Regions from separate parts of the Homo sapiens genome. Here region 1 is linked to region 2. Evidence: fine-mapped expression QTL. Tissue or cell type: whole blood. Region 2 holds a variant in brackets; the other region holds the start of a gene. All regions are shown on one strand. Distances are between the middles of the regions. Region 1 holds the start of SNHG16 (small nucleolar RNA host gene 16). Region 2 holds the start of ST6GALNAC2 (ST6 N-acetylgalactosaminide alpha-2,6-sialyltransferase 2).

Region 1 (9,215 bases), 29 kb after region 2:
AAATCTTATGGTTTACTTGAGTTCTGTAGTCAAGTCCACTCAGCAGACAATAACCACTTGATAAGCTACCCTTTTCACTGTTTTACTTGCAGGCTGTAAACTACTGGGGCCAGTTTTTAGGCTCATTAAATCTCACCCAGAATACAGCTTCTTTGGTGTCCAGCAAAAACACAACCTTAAATACAAAGAGTTTGCACACACCTCCCCTTTCTTTTTTTTTTTTTTTTTTTTGAGACGGAGTCTCGCTCTGTCACCCAGGCAGGACTGCGGACTGCAGTGGCGCAATCTCGGCTCACTGCAAGCTCCGCTTCCCGGGTTCACGCCATTCTCCTGCCTCAGCCTCCCGAGTAGCTGGGACTACAGGCGCCCGCCACCGCGCCCGGCTAATTTTTTTGTATTTTTAGTAGAGACGGGGTTTCACCTTGTTAGCCAGGATGGTCTCGATCTCCTGACCTCATGATCCACCCGCCTCGGCCTCCCAAAGTGCTGGGATTACAGGCGTGAGCCACCGCGCCCGGCCCACACCTCCCCTTTCAACAGAAAAGAAAGGCAATCTGTGTGCACTTCAAGCCTGGCATTCCAGTGGGAACAAAGCTGGGCACCCCACTCTCCAGCACCACTTGGTTTCTTTCTTGCTCACATGCCAGTCGTGACATTCAGACAGGATCTAAGCTACAAACTTAGGAGACCTCCCTGGCGTCCTTAACAAAGCACATAGAAACCAAACAGCCGTGGTTTCCCCTAAATGTCAGGACCCTGGAGCAGAGGCAAGGTCAGAGTCATTAAGCATTCTCATTGCCACAAGCTGGCATACATCCTACATTCCAATCTGTTTCTAAGAGCGCATTCATTTTCTTGAAATATGTAACAAGCACTTTCATTCCACAATAAGGGCATAAATCAAATCCTGGGTACTTGTGCATTCCTGCCACCTCATACAGCCTGTATCCTCAGAGCCATAATCAAAGGACTAGAGAAAGCAGGACAATCACTCATTTGCTTTTCACGTTTTAGAGGAATGATGCTCTAGACTGGGCTCTCAGCAGGATATGCTGAGGGAAAAAAAAAGGGGAAAAAAAACAAAAACAAAAAAAAAACCATGGAGCCAAACCCTTAAGCCTCAGAATAGATTATTTCCCTCAGTCCAGATTTTCAGACAGGGATAACTAACCATCATAGGCTTGTGGGACTTCTTACGGATACGAAAGATGTAAACAAATCTTACAAACAGGAAAGCAATCATTTCACTTGTTTCCGGCAAAGCAGTTCAGTTTCGTCTCTTATTGCAGACACCTAGCAACAAAATGCTACTAAAGTCTCCCTGCCCCCATTGCTTTAAGTCCAGAGCAGGGGAAGCAAAAAAGATTACCACTCCCCCAAACCAAACCAAGCCTGTTTACCAGTTCGTCTACTTACTCACATTAAAGACATGGCACTTTGGGTCCGGGTCCAGGTCCTGGTTCAGAGCAGCTGCCACACCGTGGCTACTAGAGGATCCTTTTCCGGCTTTGGAAACTGAGGCTGACTGCACCTGGGAAGAGAAATTAAGAAAAAAAACTACTTAAGAAGATACACACAGAGTAACTCTCAAGTAACTTAAAATTTCTGTAAGGCAAACTTGGGAAACTGAGTTTCAGATATTCAAATTCCACACAGAAAGGCCTTTCTTTGCCTTCAGACAGGGATAACTTGAAATCATCATGGACTCAGCTCCCACCAACCTGCTGGACCATAGCACTAACAGCCACAGCACACGCAAACTATTTTTTTCTCATCAAATTGTTCACTTCCCTCACGCAAATTCTTTGTGGAGCAAGCATGTGACTTTCTTTTTTTGAAAAGTAGTTTCACTCTTGTTGCCCAGGCTGGAGTGCAATGACGCGATCTCGGCTCACTGCAACCTCCACCTCCCGGGTTCAAGTGATTCTCCTGCCTCAGACTCCCAAGTAAGTTGGGATTACAAGCATGCGCCACCACGCCAGGCTAATTTTGTATTTTTAGTAGAGACGGAGTTTCTCCATGTTGGTCAGGCTGGTCTCGAACTCCCGACCTCAGATGATCCACCTGCCTCGGCCTCCCCAAGTGCTGGGATTACAGGTGTCAGCCACCGTGCCCTCCAGGCTTTCAGTTTTTTAAGACAGAGGATTAGAGATTTGCCCAAGAGCTACTTAAAAATAGCCAGCACTATAATCTCACTATAATAAAATCCTTGCACTAAAAACAGATCAGATCATCTACTTCAAGCTTGTCTAACCCACAGCCTGCATGTGGCTCAGGACGGCTTTGAATGCAGCCCAACACAAATTTGTAAACTTTAGGACGGCTTTGAATGCAGCCCAACAAATTTGTAAACTTTCTCAAAATATTATGAGATTTTTTTTTTTTAGCTCATCAGCTATCATTAGTGTTAGTTTATTTTATGTGTGACCCAAGACAATTCTTCCAATGTGGCACAGGGAAGCCAAAAGATTGACACCCCTGATCTAGTTACTACCCACTTGCTCTTGGACTGGCCACATGATTCCTGGACTCCACTCCAGAGCCATTCTCACCCATGCCTGGAGGTGAGGCCCAGGAATGTGTATATTTTAACACTTTGTAGGTGGCTCTGATGTAATAATCAAGTTTGGAAATCACTAACCCTGTTTCACAAATGAAGAAACAAGACTCTGGTGAGAAAATAGGCTGAGACTAGAGCTCAGATCTCTAGTTAGCCTAACGTGTGGTATACAGGAGTTTCTCAACCTCAGCTCTACTGACATACTGGGTGGATCAATTATTCCTCATGCAGGCTGTTGTATGCATTGTAGGATATTTATTTATTTATTTATTTACAGAGTTTCGCTCTTGTCGCCTAGACTGGAGTACAATGGTGCCATCTCAGCTCACTGCAAACCTCTGCCTCCTGGGTTCAAGAGATTCTCCTGCCTTAGTCTCCCAAGTAGCTAGGATTACAGGTGCCCGCCACCACACCCAGCTAATTTTTGTATTTTTAGTAGAGACAAGGTTTCACCATGTTGGCCAGGCTGGTCTCGAACTCGAACTCCTGACCTCAGGTGATCCATCTGCTTCGGCCTCCCAAAGTGCTGGGATTACAGGCATGAGATAAATATCCAGGCCCAGCCAGGGTATTTATTAATAGTAGCATTCACCAGATGCCAGGAACACCATCGCTCCCCAGTTCAGAACTGCCAGTCTAACTCAGTAACTGCTTGTATAACTTTGGGCAAAAGAACTCTTTACGCCTCACTTTTACTTACTCAGCAGCAGAGTGGGGAAAAAAATTTACCTCATATGGGGTTGATATTAGAAATACTATTTATGGCCAGGCAAGGTGGCTCACGCCTGTAATCCCAGCACAGATCACCTTAAGTCGGGAGTTCAAGACCAGCCTGACCAACATGGAGAAACCCCGTCTCTACTAAAAACACAAAATTAGCTAGGCGTGGTGGTGCATGCCTGTAATCCCAGCTACTTGGGAGGCTGAGGCAGGAGACTAGCTTGAACCCAGGAGGCAGAGGTTGCGCTGAGCCAAGATCGCACCATCGCACTCCAGCCTGGGCAACAAGAGCAAAACTCTGTCTCAAAACAAACAAACAAAAAATGCTCTTTATGAGAGTGCTTGGCAAGGACCCTATCAAAAGGAATTCCATACTACTTCCATTATCTGGGCAATCGTAACCCTGGAAGACCAACACATCCCCAAAACTAACAAACCAATACTTAAAGAGGACCATAAGCATATTCAAGTCTATGAAAGTACTAAAAATCTCACCATTTACAGAAATTTCATCATGAAGATCCTTACACTTAACACCTTAAGGTGATGAGTTTTCACATGACTGTTTTCAAGGCCACAGCCACCACCTTTAATCTAAAAGAGAAGGATAACAGGCTTCATTCTAACAGAAACCACCTTAAGGTTTATTCTCCAGATTTGTATTAAACAGCTGAGCCTCAGCAAGTCAGACCTCCTCACAAAAGATACCATTTCAGACAGGGATAACTTTAAATCATCCTCAGCTCAGCCAATAACAAAGATTCCTAAATCCTAGCGATCCAAAATTCATTTGCCATGTCTCTTTCATCCCTGCATGCCCTAACGAGGATCCACGCTGGTTACAATGACACCTAGTGGCCCCAAATCACACGGGCAAAGACGCTACTCATTTTTATCATTAAAATAATTAGCATTCTGAATTTTGAGTAATTTCTTACCATAGCTGGCTTGTATGTCAACACGTATTCTCATACTTGAACTTCAGAATAAAGCAGGAGGTGAATGTATGTGATGGCACCAACTGTGCTTTCTCATTTCTAGTGACCACTCAGGCCCTGCCTGCACCCACTCTTACTCATGTTAAGGGCTCCATCTATTACTCTGATCCTTCAACCTGGAGCTCTGCTTTTCACCGTCTCTGCAGATGCCAAACAAAGAAAGGCCTCTGGGGGAGGAAAAAAGGCTCGTTGTTAAAACTACGGCTTTCCAGAAGTTTACAATCCTATTGACTCCTATCTGTAAAGCTAAATATGAACTACCGATTGGGGCCGTCCTCAAGACACTCCAAGCGGAATCACGTCTTCACACGTTAACACTCCTGATGCTGAATTAAGAACCACCATCGTCAGAGTCTGCCCGTGCGCGGGCACCGAAGACCCCTGGGCATGACGCTCAGCACACGCGCGGCGGAGGCGCACGGGGCTGCCCAGGTTGTTAGGCGCTCTCCCCCGCAGAAGCCGGCCCTATGACGCCGAGGACGGGCTTGAGCTCTCTCCCTTCACATAGTAACATTTTCTCAACGTTTGGAAAGCATTTTCTCATCCAGTACTTTTAACCCTCCTAACCACCCTATGAGGGAGAAACCGAGATTATCGTCACCACTTCGTCTCTGAGGAAGGGAAGCCAAGTATGTTAGTGTCGTGTCAAGGAAGACCCCGTTTTCCCACCCAGGCAGCCTTACCATCATCACTAAAGGCCTGAGACTGCTCGCCGTGCTCAACACCGACTGGAGTGGCCATGTCTTCCAGCCACGCGGCCGACCTCGAAAAGAACGCGAGACCGCCCCTGCGCGCAAGTCTTCTCGGCAATCTCTCCGGAACTCTCGCGATGTTGAGAAAGGGCTGGTGGGAAATGTAGTTCAAAACTACGGCGGCTGGGGGCTGGCCGCGTCCTCAGCGCGACCCTGGAGCTGGGGGTAAGATGGTGGCCGCCACCAGGGGCAGTGGAGGGTCCGGAGTGGGAAACCAGGCCTGTGAAGAACCACGGCTGTCAGAAAACGAAGCTGGAGGTTCACTTCTGCCAGAAAGTCATTGAGCTTCAACACAGTTTGTCCCTGGTCGAGACTGGGGAAGCACAGAAAGTTCGAGGGGGCAGGGACAGATGAGGAAACCGGGGCTTGGCCGAGTATCTTTGTTAATTGCTCTGCGGATTTTATTTGGGGGAGGATAGGGGCATTTGGGGTGGTTCGCTGGGTTAGTGAAGAGGAGAGATTCCGAGGGAATCGTTCAACCTCCTGCTCAGGTGTTTTTAAGTTTGGGGCGAGGCCGGTGAAGCCGAGGCGCGGGCGGCAAGGAGCGCTGGAGAGCGACGGGGCTCGGCCTCCGCGGCTGCCCAGGGGCCCGGGGCATTCCGAGAAGAGAAAAAAAGGCAAGTGTCACGAGCTGAATTACGAAAAGAACGGAGAATGATGTAACACCCACTGCTCTTCTGAGTGTTATTTTTCAGGCAAACACCTTGGCTTCATTTTTTTTTGTTTCTGGGTTTTTTTGGTTTGTTTTTGAGATAAGGTTTCACCCTGGCACGCAGGCTGGAGTGCAGTGGTGCAATCATAACTTATTGTAGCCTGGACCTCCCGGGCTCAAGTGATCCTCCCGCCTCAGCCTCCTGAGTGGCCGGGACGACAGGCGAGCGCCACCACGCCCAGCTGATTATTTTTATTTTGCAGAGATGAGGTCTCACTATGTTGCCCGGGTTGGTCTCAAACTCCTGGCCTCAAGCAGTCCTCCTGTTTTGGCCTCCCAAAGTGCTGGGATTACAAAGGTGAGCCACTGCGCCCGGTCTGGCTTCGTTTTTGAAATAAAAATAAGGCAAAAACGACATCAACAATCAGGGCCAGAATTTGCACCTATTTGAAAGCTAGTTTAAGTTTGCAAGACCGAGAGCCTTTTCTCCATTCCAGTCTCCCTGTTCTCATCCACCCATTAACAGTGATCTCTGTGGCCTTCGGTGTGGGTTATATTGTCCTGCAGATGGTAATATGTTGCAGATACTTATCTTCAAATTACCACATTTGCTTATGTTTACCTCCTTTCATTTGATTGTAAGCTCTTCAAGAGCAGAAGTCTCTTTTTATTATTATTATTATTTTTTTTTTTTTTTTTTTTTGAGATGGACTTTTGCTCTTGTTGCCCAGGCTGGAATGCAATGGCACGATCTCGGCTCACGGCAACCTCCGCCTCCCAAGCTCAAGTGATTCTCCTGCCTCAGCCTCCTGAGTAGCTGGGATTACAGGCATGCGCCACCACGCCCAGCTAATTTTGTATTTTTAGTAGAGATGGGGTTTCTCCATGTTAGGCTGTTCTCAAACTCCTGACCTCAGGTGATCCACCCGTCTCAGCCTCCCAAAGTGCTGGGATTACAGGCGTGAGCCACCACGCCCAGCCTCTTTTTATTTTTATTTTTTTCTTTTTAATTTCTTAACAGTGCAGGGTTTGGTATTTACCTGCTATGCTCACAGTAAGTCTTCAGCAAATAATCATTAATTCATTCAGCAGTAATTCTGGCCATTAGGTTTCTCTACCTTACCCTTGAAGACACGTTATTTTGTGTAATACTGAAAGGAAGAATGTGTTCTATCCCTGCAAACATAGTTCCTTTCATTTGAGACTTACAGTGGGAATTCTAAGTGTGGAATTTCCCAAAAGCTGCTAGCGGGCTGGTGACCTACTGTAGACAAGATAGTAATGATAGCTAATACTTCATAGCACTTACCAGGTGCCATTCCCTATACTGGTTTCTGTACATGTATGAACTCGTTTAATCCTCACAATGCGATGAAGTACTACTGTCAGAGGCATTGGAACCAGAAAACTCCATCTTGAATAGGAGCTGGGTGAAACGAGGCTGAAACCTACTGGGCTGCATTCCCGGACGGTTAAGGCATTCTAAGTCACAGGATGAGACAGGAGGTCGGCACAAGATACAGGCCATAAAGACCTTGCTGATAAAACAGTTTGCAGTAAATAAGCCCACCAAAACCAAAACCAAGATGGCGATGAGAGTGACCTCTGGTCGTCCTCACTGCTACACTCCCACCAGCGCCATGACAGTTTACAAATGCCATGGCAACATCAGGAAGTTACCCTATGTGGTCTAAAAATGGGAGGCGTAAATAATCCACCCCTTGTTTAGGATATAATCAAGAAATAACCATAAAAATGGGCAACCAGCAGCCCTCAGGGCTGCTCTGTGGAGTAGCCTTTTTTTTTTTTTTTTTTTTGAGACAGAGTCTCGCTCTGTCACCCAGGCTGCAGTGGTGCTGCTGTCTCGGCTCACTGCAGCCTCCACCTCCTGGGTTCAAGCAATTCTCCTGCTTCAGCCTCCCGAGTAGCTGGATTACAGGCGCACGCCACCACGCCCGGCTAATTTTTGTATTTTTAGTAGCAACAGGGTTTCACCATGTTGGCCAGGCTGGTCTCGAACTCCTGACCTCAAGTGATCTGCCTGCCTCAGCCTCCCAAAGTGCTAGGATTATAGGCTTGAGCCACCATGCCTGGCCAAGTAGCCATTCTTTTATTCCTTTACTTTTCTAATAAACTTGCTTTCACTTTAGTCTATAGACATCCCAAATTCCTTCTTGCTCAAGATCCAAGAACCCTCTTTTGGGGTCTGGATCAGGACTCCTCTCCGGTAACACTATCACTGTCCCCATTTTACGGATAAGGAAACAGAAGCACTGGGAAATTCGGTAACTTGCCCAAATTCACATAACCAGTAACTGGCAGGGTCAGGGTTTGCTCCCAGCCTGTAGAATCCATGCTTTTACCGCTAATGAATAAGGTGACCTTATGTATAAGGACTTTTGTTTTCGGGGAGGAAGGGAGAAGGAAGAAGATTTTCATGTGTTTGTAGGGGTGGTTGGGGACAAAATCAGAAATGAGGTTGAAAGGGGGAACAATGGGCACCTGCTCTGCCATTTGAGCCACTTCGTGGCAGGAAGAGTGAGGATGGGAGGCTGCAGAGCTGATGTGTGGAAGATGGAGGCTCTGGGCTCTAGCAGGGCTGTATTGGGCCTGGATGCCACCCAGTGTATAGTGAGGGCCATTCTTTACAGCTCTTCACTCTGCCGCAGGCCACCAAGTTGCTTTCACACCTGACTGGACATCGCTTCCCCAACAGCAGGTTCATGGCAGATGGGGATGCCAGGGCAGCTGGGCAGTGGCCAAGAGGCTGGAGCGAAATACAATGAGAGGCCTTGTGCCGAGCACATGTAAAGTACACTGTGCAGCCAACCCAGAAATAACTAGGGGGACTTCAGAGAATGCATCAGAATTCCTGAATGAGCCGGCAAGGGCTCAGAGCTGTTGAGACTGAAATGTGGATGTTACTGTGATCTCATTTGCACTCATTGCTGGTGAGAGCTAGGACATTTGAGTTTTACCTACCGTGGAATTATTATACAGCCTTTATACCAGGCTAGTGCAGACCTCTATTTATTGACATGGAAAGAGTCACAGTCTAGTGACTCTTTACAAACAGGAAAGCAAAAGTCCCCAGCGCTTTTCAGGGACCCAGGCTCTGAGTACAAAGGGAAAATCCAGTCAGCTGGCCTGCTGTATTGGGGTGGTCACTGACAGCGTTTAAGACATGGTATCTGAAACCCACAGTAATAGAAAACAGTCTTTGGGCTGGTCGCAGTGGCTCATGCCTATAATCCCAACACTTTGGTTGGCCAAGGCAGGAGGATCACTTGAGCCCAGGAGTTCAAGACCAGCCTGAGCAACATAGGGAGACCCCCGTCTCTACCAATAAAAAATGAGAAACAGCCAGGTGTGGTGGCACATGCCTGTGGTCCCAGCTGGATGGGAGGCTGAGGTGGGAGGATTGCTGGGGCCCGTGAGATTGAGGCTGTGCAGTGAGCCATGACTTCATCACTGCCCTCCAGCCTGGATGACAGAGCAAGACCTTGTCTCAAAAAAATAAATACATAAAAATA
Region 2 (9,472 bases):
ATGTTTTTACAAAATGCTTACATGTGGTTGTTTTAGAACATAGAGTACTCGAAGTTTTGATCTCTTGGTTTTGCAAATCCGTAATCCATAGTTCATCTTATGTGAAAAGCATGTATATATACTTTTAAAGACTTTGATTGAAGTTAAGGATAACCTTATAGTTTTGAAATATCTAATGAAGCATATTTCAGCTAAAAAGAAAAATTTAGGTTTTTGTTAGGGAAAATTTCGAATATATACAAAAGTAGAGAGAATACTGTAATGCACCCTCATATCCCCATTATACAGCCCCAACAATGAGCCACACTCATAGCCAATTTGTTTCATCTGTGTCCCCATCCACTCTCCACTTCCGGCCCAGACTTGGTTATTTTTAAAGAATTCCATGTATCATATTCGTTTGTAAATATTCAGTATGTATTATTAACAATAAGGACACTTTTAAAAAATAACCACAATGCTACTATCACACATTTTCTTTCTTTCTTTTCTTTTGAGACGGAGTCTCATTCTGTCTCACAGGCTGGAGTGCAGTGGCGTGATCTTGGCTCACTGCAACTTCTGCCTCCTGGGTTCAAGCGATTCTCCCGTCTCAGCCTCCTGAGTAGCTGGGATTACAGGTGCCCGCCACCCACCCCAGACTAAATTTTGTATTTTTAGTAGAGACAGGGTTTTGCCATATTGGCCAGGCTGGTCTCAAACTCCTGACTTCAGGTGATCTGCCCGCCTTGGCCTCCCAAAGTGCTGGGATGACAGGTGTGAACCACTGCACCTGACCTCTTTCTTTTTAAAAATAGAGATGGAGTCTCACTAGGTTGCCCTGGCTGGTCTCAAACTCCTGGGCTCAAGATATCATCTTGCCTCAGCCTCCCAAAGTGCTGGATTACAGTGTGAGCCACCGCACCTAGCCACACATTTTAAAATTTAACAATTCCTTAGATTTATCAAACATCCAGATCAATTTTCCTGATTCAAAAAATAGAATTTTAAGATGACAAATCAATGAGGAAGTCAACATTAAATTAAAAACCATTGCGGCCGGGCGCGGTGGTTCACGCCTGTAATCCCAACACTTTGGGAGGCCGAGGCAAGTGGATCACTTGAAGTCAGGAGTTCGAGACCAGCCTGGCCAACACGGTGAAACCCTATCTCTACTAAAAATACAAAAATTAGCCGGGTGTGGTGGCAGGTGCCTGTAATCCCAGCTACTCTGGAGGCTGAGGCAGGAGAATCGTTTGAGCCCGGGAGGTGGAGGTTGCAGTGAGCTGAGATTGCGCCACTGCACTCCAGCCTGGGCAATACAGTGAGACTGTTTAAAAAAAAAATTGCAAAAGATGAACTGCCAGCATGAGGAACTCTATAGCCCCACTTTCTAGTGAAAGTGGACTCCAGCCTGGTCAACGTGGTGAAACCCTGTCTCTACTAAAAATACAAAAATTAGCCAGGTGTGGTGGCAGGTGCCTAGACACTTCTAAGTAAACAGAAAGTAAGAGGATTTATTGCTAGCAGACACACATTACAAGAAATACTAAAGGAATCTTCAGGCTGAAACAAGATTCAAATACACATGAGACAAAAAAAAAAAAAAACAACTCTGGTAAAGGAAATTCTGTAATTATAAAAAGTATAATTTTATAATTATATATTATATAATTGTATTTACATACAGTCATCCCTTATTATCCATGGGGGATTGGTTCCAGGACTGCCCGTATAACCAAACCAAATCCACACATACTCAAGTCCCATAGTTAGCCCTGAAAAACCCATGAGAAGTAGGCCCTCTGTGTCTGCAAGACCCTGTCTCTGCAAAAATTAAAACAAAAATAAATTAGATGGGTATAGTGGCACATGCCTATAGACCTGGCTACTTGGGAGGCTAAGGCAGGAGGATCGCTTGAGCCCAGGAGTTTAAGACTGCAGGAGCCAGCTGGGCACGGTGGCTCACGCCTGTAATCCCAGCACTTTGGGAGGCTGAGGCGGGCAAATCATGAGGTCAGGAGATCAAGACCATCCTGGCTAACATGGTGAAATCCCATCTCTACTAAAAATACAAAAACTTAGCTGGGCATGGTAGCACACGCCTGTGGTCCTAGCTACTTGGGAGGCTGAGGCAGGAGAATCAAGGCAGCTTGAACTCAGGAGGTGGAGGTTGCAGTGAGCCAAGATCATGCCACTGCACTCCAGCTTGGACAACAGAGTGAGACTCCGTCTCAAAAAAAAAGAAAAAGACTGCAGGAGCCATGATTTCACCACTGTACTACAGTCTGAACAACAAGAGTGAGACTCTGACTCAAAAAAAAAAAAAAAAAAAAAACAGTAAGAAAGAAAAAAAAACAGTAAGAAAGAAAGAAAAAAGTAACGCAGGTCTCCAGGGATGCCTTTATACACAGCTGAACAGGTTTGCAGCTGATAGAGATCTGGGCCTCAGATGGAGACTAATTCAGGAGTCACAAACAGAAAGCTGGTTGTTGAAACCATGAGAACAAAGAGTTGCAGGCTGGAATTACTGGGAGCTAAGTGTCAAATTCAGAGAGACAGATGCAGCAGAATTAGAACTGGAAAATGTGGACTCCCTTTGGAAGGATGATGGTTGCTAGTGACTTCAGTGGGTACAATTTCAATGGCATCGTAGGTAAGGAAGTCAGATGCAAAAAGAAGCAGAGACAGAATAGACTCTCTACCAAGAACTTGGATGAAAGAAAAAGAGAGTAGCTATGAAGGGGGCCAGCTCCATGGCGTTTTTTGTTTGTTTTGCTTTGCTTTGCTTTTTAGGATGAGCTATTTGGGGCATGTTCATAGGCTGTGATAAGGACCTTGCAGAGGGGGCAGGGAGGGCTGCTGAAGCAAGAGCTGAAGAATGGGAGGTCACAGTGAAGAGGCTGGCTCTCCCTGGAAGGAGGAGAGTCTGGAGCAATAAGGTGAGGGTGCATGGGCAGGATCATGCTGTGAGCAGAGGGACCAACTGACCTTTTGTTCCAGGCTCTTTTCAAGAACGTTGGTATAGGCCAGGTGCAGTGGCTCACGCCTGTAATCCCAGCACTTTGGGAGGCCGAGGCGGGCGGATCACGAGGTCAGGAGATCGAGTTCATCCTGGGTAACATGGTGAAACCCCATCTCTACTAAAAATACAAAAAATTAGCCAGATGTGGTGGCGGGCGCCTGTAGTCCCAGCTACTTGGGAGGCTGAGGCAGGAGAATGGCGTGAACCCGGGAGGTGGAGCTTGCAGTGAGCCGAGATCGTGCCACTGCACCCCAGCCTGGCGACAGAGCGAGACTCTGTCTAAAAAAGAAAAAAAAAAAAAAAGATTGTTGGTACAGCAGACTGCCTTGGAAGATAAAGATAGTGCCTCCCTCTGGAGCAGAGGGCAGATTTCCTCACTATCCAACGTAATAAAGATAATGTCTCCCTCTTGGACAAGAGCAGGTTTGCTTGCAGCCCATTATAAAAGATTCTGGTTTCCTTATCTCAGGGATTCTCAGCTGTGCTGCAAACCCATTGTGTGTGCAACACTCACCTGGGCCTCTCTGTATCACTCTCATGGGGCTTGAGGAGTAAAGAGAAGTGACACAAACATGATGCCTATGTTGCTTGCTGCACCATGAGTAATAAAGTCCTTTGTCTCTGATCCAGTAGTCTTGTGTCTTCTACCAGCATCCACAGAACTATGGCAGTTTCATTGGTTAGCTTGTAAGGAGAGCAAAATCTGCACAGTTCTTAACAAAAGATGACTTTGAACTTGGGGGCATGGGAAGTTGAAGGTCACTCCTGATGGGCTGCATTTTCTCACAGGTATGGCTGGGAAAAGAGGAGGCTTGAGGAAAGAAGTAAGTTCTAGAATCATTGTTGAGCAGGATAGAAGCTGGAGCTGAGCAAGGATAAGGAAATGGCTGATGTTGAGAGCCAGCTGAGGCCAAACTTGTGTTCCCAATTCACACTCTGGAATGAGCTACACCTGACCCCTGACCCCTGCAGCACTCAGCCAGGCCAGGGACAGGCAGCACAGGAGAGGCAGAGGCAAGAGTGAATCCAGGTCAGAGTTTTGCTGGGAAGAAAGCCAGGAACACAAGAGAATCTGGGTTACTGATGCAGGAGTAGCTCAGATTATAACCCAGGGAGTCCTGCCTAGATAGGAAAGAAAGCTGCTGAGAGAGGGTTGGCCCACTGGGAGAAAAGGGAAGGATGGAGACCCTGGAGGTCCTGTGAGGCTGAAGATGGGAGGAAGGAGAACTCCAGGTGGGTGGATAGGAGATCTTGGTGTGAGGGGAGTACTGCCATTTAAGGCATTGGAGGTGGACCTGGATTATTAACACAGATAGGGGGTTAACTCCCACACAGGAGGAGAGCACCCTCTCCCCAGCTCTTAAGACTGGAGTCCTGAGGCCTGGCGCAGTGGCTCGCACATGTAATCCCAGCAGTTTGGGAGGCCAAGGTGGGCAGATCACCTGAGGTCAGGAGTTTGAGACCAGCCTGGCCAACGTGGTAAAGCCCCCATCCCTACTAAAAATACAAAAAAAAAAAGCTGGGCATGGGGGTGCACTCCTGTAATCCCAGCTACTGGGGAGGCTGAGGCAGGAGAATCGCTTGAACCTGGGAGGTGGAAGTTGCAGTGAGCCGAGATCACGCCTCTGCACTCCAGCCTGGGTAACAGGCTGTTTCAAAAAAAAAAAAAAAAAAAAAGACTAGAGTCCCGGCAGGGAGAGGCTGGGCTGTGTGTGGGGGCCAAGTTTGTAGGTTTGTAAGTGGAAGTTGAATAAATTACTAATGAATGATTCTCCTTTTCTCCATGAAGTAGAGGGTAAGGCACTTACTGAGAGCAAGGGCTAGGAGGGATATTTATGGGCACAGAGAGAAGGTCTGAGGAAATGTGAGAAGCCAGTGATCAGGGGATAAGTAACATCTACAGGAATTTTGACAAGTAAACCCATAAAGATTGAAATGAAAGTCGTGACACCATAAATTCCAAGTAGTGCCCATCTGCGGGGTAGCAAGATGAGTCTGGCTCTGCTGAGCAGTCTTGGGGTGAAGGAAAGAACTGGCCCAATGTGAGTGACCTCCAGTGACCCTGACTTGGTAGGAGTACTGAGACTGGATGGACTGAATGGCCATTCCTGACCACAGGCCCAGGCCCTGGGAGGTTTTCGGGAAGCCTTGCAATCAGACAGGTACCTGTTGCTGCACCCAGACTTCCTCG[G/T]ATACATGAAGAACAGATTAGAGCCAAAGGCCCGTGACACGGTAGCCTAGGTCCCTCTCATCCTTGCAGCCTGCTGACAGTTGGGAGTCTGGGGCATGTCACAGCCTGCCGCATGTCACAGCTTGCCGAACAGTGGCCACTGAAGCACACCCATCTCATCCATCACTCACTGCCAGGGAGTGTTCCACTTAGAGAGCACGGGTGCTGAGCTTCCCAGCCCTTTCTGATGCTGGAGCCTGCTAGACCAGGGGTCCCCAATCCCAAGCCTGGTCCGAGACCTGTTAGGAACAGGGCATCGCAGCAGGAGGTGAGTGGAGGGGGAAGGAGCATTACCGCCTGAGCTCCGCCTCCTTCAGATCAGCCTCGGCATTAGAGTCTCAAAGGAGTGCGAACCCTTTTGTGAAATGCGCATGCCAGGGATCTAGGTTGCGGGCTCCTTATGAGAGCATCTTAACTCATGCCTGATGATCTGAGGTGGAACAGTTTCATCCCCAACCCCCCCACCCCCACCCCCCTCCGTGGAAAAATTGTCTTCCAGGAAACCAGTCCCTGGTGCCAATAAGTTTGGGAACCCGTTGTGCTGAACATTTCAGGTGGTCTCTCTGACTGGCCTCGTTCTGTGAAAGGAACTCAATGCGATTGAGGGGACTGGCCACCCTGGATGGTTACCAAATAAGCGCTGACAGCCTTAGCTCCCCCACGAAACCCATCACGGCAAGCTCCCCACCTCACCCCCTTTTCCCCCCTCTACCGCCAGCCCAGAGACTGAGCTGTCGGGTTTTGCTCCTCCACCCTGCCCGCCCCCTCCCAGCTGTCCTGGCGTCCGCAGACTGACAGATCTGAGGGTCCTTTGGAGGGAGCCGGGCACATCTCCTCCCGGCCGCCGCCCACCCGCCACAGAGTCTAGAGGCCGAGTGCCGGGCCCGCAGAGGGCAGAGCGCAGCCAGCGCAGCAGGTGGCGGCGTCTACCCGCGCCTAGCTAGCCCCGGACGGCGCGAGGAAAGCGCCCTGCCCAACCCGAGACTGGCGGCCTCCCGGGGCTGGGCTCTGGAGAGAGCGCAGTGGCAGGAGTGGCCGCTGCCGAAGTCCCCCGGGCAGGGGGCAGGGCCAAAGGAGCGCGCGCTCTGGGCGCCGGGACGACACTCCAGCCCCGGGGGACCCGCCGCCCAGCTCCCGAGGGTGCGGCAGCCTCTGGCCACTCAGCCGGGGCCGAGAGGGAGCTGCCGGGCGGGCAGGCGCCGCAGGCACCCGGCGGGCAGGGCGGGGCAGGGCAAGACGGCCGCCTCCGCAAGTGCCACCCGGCCCACCCGGTTCTCTCCCTTCTGCCTGGGACGTCAGCGGACGGGGCGCTCGCGGGCCGGGGCTGTATGGGGCTCCCGCGCGGGTCGTTCTTCTGGCTGCTGCTCCTGCTCACGGCTGCCTGCTCGGGGCTCCTCTTTGCCCTGTACTTCTCGGCGGTGCAGCGGTACCCGGGGCCAGCGGCCGGAGCCAGGTAGGGGCTGCCGAGCGCAGAGCGGGAGGGCGCAGGGGCGACCAGGGCGCGGGGAGGGTCCCCAGCCCAGGGCTCCCCGGCGGCCCGCAGCCCTCAGCCCAACCTCCGCGTGGACCCCTCTGGGGCAGCTCTCAGCGAGGACTCGGCCGCGGCCCTTTGTCGCCAGAACCCTCTCCCAGCCTTGACCTCGCGCTGCCCGGACCCCGCGGCCTTTGCCTGGGTCCAAGGAAGACCTCGCCCCTGTGCACTGGCGACCCGCCCCGGTGCCCCTTGTTGGTGAAGTCCTCCCCGGCCTGATAAGTACACTTTCTATTGTCGAAATCTGGCTGGGTCCCCGAAGCAGATAAAAACTTCCTTTTTTGTCGGGAACTCTCCCTCGGTAACGTCAGATTCTGCTTTTTGGGCAGGGGCCCAAGTCTCCGGTTTCCAACTTCGCGGGGACCCTCCGTCGGGCCGCGGCCAGTCGCCTTTCCCGCCCGCTGCGGTCTCTGTCCGCCCCGCGCCCGCTCCCTTCTCCCCGGCTTCCGCTCGCCGTGTCTGGATAAGCCCAGTGCGGGCGCGATCCGCGAAGAGGCGGGCGCCCGAGGGAAAGAGGGGTGACTCCTGGCTCCATCCGCGTTCTCCTCCCCGCGCCGCGTCCTGCGCTCCACTCCCTCCTCCTCCCTAGGCACTTTCCTGGGTGTCCCACGAGGAGAACCTGGGAGCCGGCCTCTAGCAGGTGGTGGTTCCGGTGACTGAAGAAGCCGCAAAACGATTTCGCTTAGCTTAAGAAAGGCGGACCAAGCCGTGCGAAGTCTGGGTTTGGGAGGAGGGAAGGGCCCGGCAGCCTCAGGGAGAGGCCTCCAGCCCCAGCCTTTCCCTTCCTGGAGCTTTTCCATCTGCGCACCCCCTACCAACCTTGCTGGGGGGCTAACGGGATGAAAACAAAATAAGTATCTGGTCTCCACAGATGCTGTCAAAGGATACACCAAAAGTTGCAGAACAATGTGAAACAGCTTGCCAGTGATCAGGAGTCCAGCACTCTTAGAACAAAGGGTGCTTGCCCCGCCACGGTGACTTAACGCCTGTAGTCCCAGCACTCTGGGAGGCGGAGGTGGGAGGATAGCTTGAGGCCAGGAATTCGAGGCTGTGAGCTGTGATTGCACTACTGCATTCCAGCCTGGTTGACAGAGAGAGACCCTGTCTCAAAAGAAAAGGAATCCTTGTCACTTTTATGTAAAGATGTTTAAAACACAAAGTATCTCAATGCAAAGAAATAATACATGTTTGATATAAGCCTGGGCAACATGGCGAAACCTCGTCTCTACCAAAAATACAAAACTTATCCGGGGATGGTGGTGCATGCCTGTGCTTCCATCTATCTATTCCGGGAGCTGACCAAGAAGATCCCTTGAGTCTGGGAGGTCGAGGCTGCAGTGAGCTGTGATCGCGCCACTGCACTCCAGCCTGGGCAATACAGCAAGGTCCTGTCTCCAGAAAAAAAAAAAAAAGTTCGAGGTGATGGATATGCTAATTAGCTGGTTTGATTATTACACATTACATACACGTATTGAAATATCACACTGTGGCCGGGCGCGGTGGCTCACGCCTGTAGTCTCAGCATTTTGGGAGGCCGAGGCAGGCGGATCACGAGGTCAGGAGATCCTCCTGACCTGGCTTTCACCTGGCTAACACGGTGAAACCCCGTCTCTACTAAAAAATACAAAAAATTAGCTGGGCGTGGTGGCGGGCACCTGTAGTCCCAGCTACTCGGGAGGCTGAGGCAGGAGAATGGCGTGAACCTGGGAGGTGGAGCTTGCAGTGAGCCAAGATCGCGCCACTGCACTCCAGCCTGGTGACAGAGCGAGACTCCATCTCAAAAAAAAAAAAAAGAAATATCACACTGTACCCTATACATATGTGCAAGTATGTGCCAATTAAAAATAATTTTACAAAAAGGAAGAGACCTGATCTAGCAACTCAGCCCCACTCTGCATGTGACGTCCTGCCCCACCAACACCAAGGCCCTCTGGCTGCCCTGGACCACTGCCTATGGGGTAGCCCTGCTCCACAAGGAGCAGAAAAGAAAAAAAAAAAAAAAAGGCCTTCACCAAATGTGGTTCCTCGACCTTGGACTTCCCAGCCTCCATAACTGTAAGAAATGAATTCCTTTTCTTATAAAAATAATCTTTTGGGGACAGTCTCACTCTGTCACCCAGGCTTGCAGTACAGTGGGTCTATCTTGGCTCACTGTAACCTCCACCTCCTGAGCTAAAATGATTCTCCCACCTCAGCCTCCCAAGTAATACATTATCTTCTTTTTTTTTTTGGGACAGAGTCTCCCTCTGTCGCCCAGGCTGGAGTGCAGTGGCCCCATCTCGGCTCACTGCAAGCTCTGTCTCCCGGGTTCATGCCATTCTCCTACCTCAGCCTCCCGAGTAGCTGGGTCTACAGGTGCCCGCCACCATGCCCAGCTGATTTTTTGTATGTTTTAGTACAGACAGGTTTTCACCGTGTTAGCCAGGATGGTCTCGATCTCCTGACCTCGTGATCCGTCCACCTGGGCCTCCCAAAGTGCTGGGATTATAGGCGTGAGCCACCGCGCCCAGCCCCGAGTAATACATTTTTTAAAAAACACAAATTAAAATTGTTTCAGGGTATCTAATAGACTTTAAGTATGAAGTTTACTATACTTCTATTATAATGCAACAATGCTTTTTTAAAAAAAAGATCTTTCCTCTTTTCAAAATGTAGTATGACTCAAGCACCTGGCCCTTTCCTGCTGTTTCTCTGTATTTGCACTGTA

Evidence for each region.
Region 1: it holds the start of SNHG16, and the variant in region 2 is fine-mapped to the expression of SNHG16 in whole blood (INTERVAL, PIP above 0.99).

The regions. Positions count from the first base shown.
Region 1 is chr17:76,553,604-76,562,818 of GRCh38, reverse strand. It overlaps SNHG16 (small nucleolar RNA host gene 16), which reads right to left and starts at 5,055. Exons shown (of 3, transcript NR_038111.1): 1 at 4,962-5,055; 2 at 1,421-1,531. It overlaps SNORD1C (small nucleolar RNA, C/D box 1C), which reads right to left and starts at 4,029; the gene lies at 3,950-4,029. SNORD1B (small nucleolar RNA, C/D box 1B) reads right to left here and starts at 1,711; the gene lies at 1,626-1,711. SNORD1A (small nucleolar RNA, C/D box 1A) reads right to left here and starts at 1,186; the gene lies at 1,113-1,186. RefSeq lists enhancers at 3,833-4,634, 4,975-5,234, 4,635-5,435, 5,925-6,024.
Region 2 is chr17:76,582,899-76,592,370 of GRCh38, reverse strand. It overlaps ST6GALNAC2 (ST6 N-acetylgalactosaminide alpha-2,6-sialyltransferase 2), which reads left to right and starts at 6,511. Exons shown (of 9, transcript NM_006456.3): 1 at 6,511-6,687. The coding sequence starts at 6,563. RefSeq lists enhancers at 4,844-5,524, 5,525-6,206 and silencers at 6,075-6,364, 6,415-6,754. The variant G/T (reference allele first, on the strand shown) is at 5,196.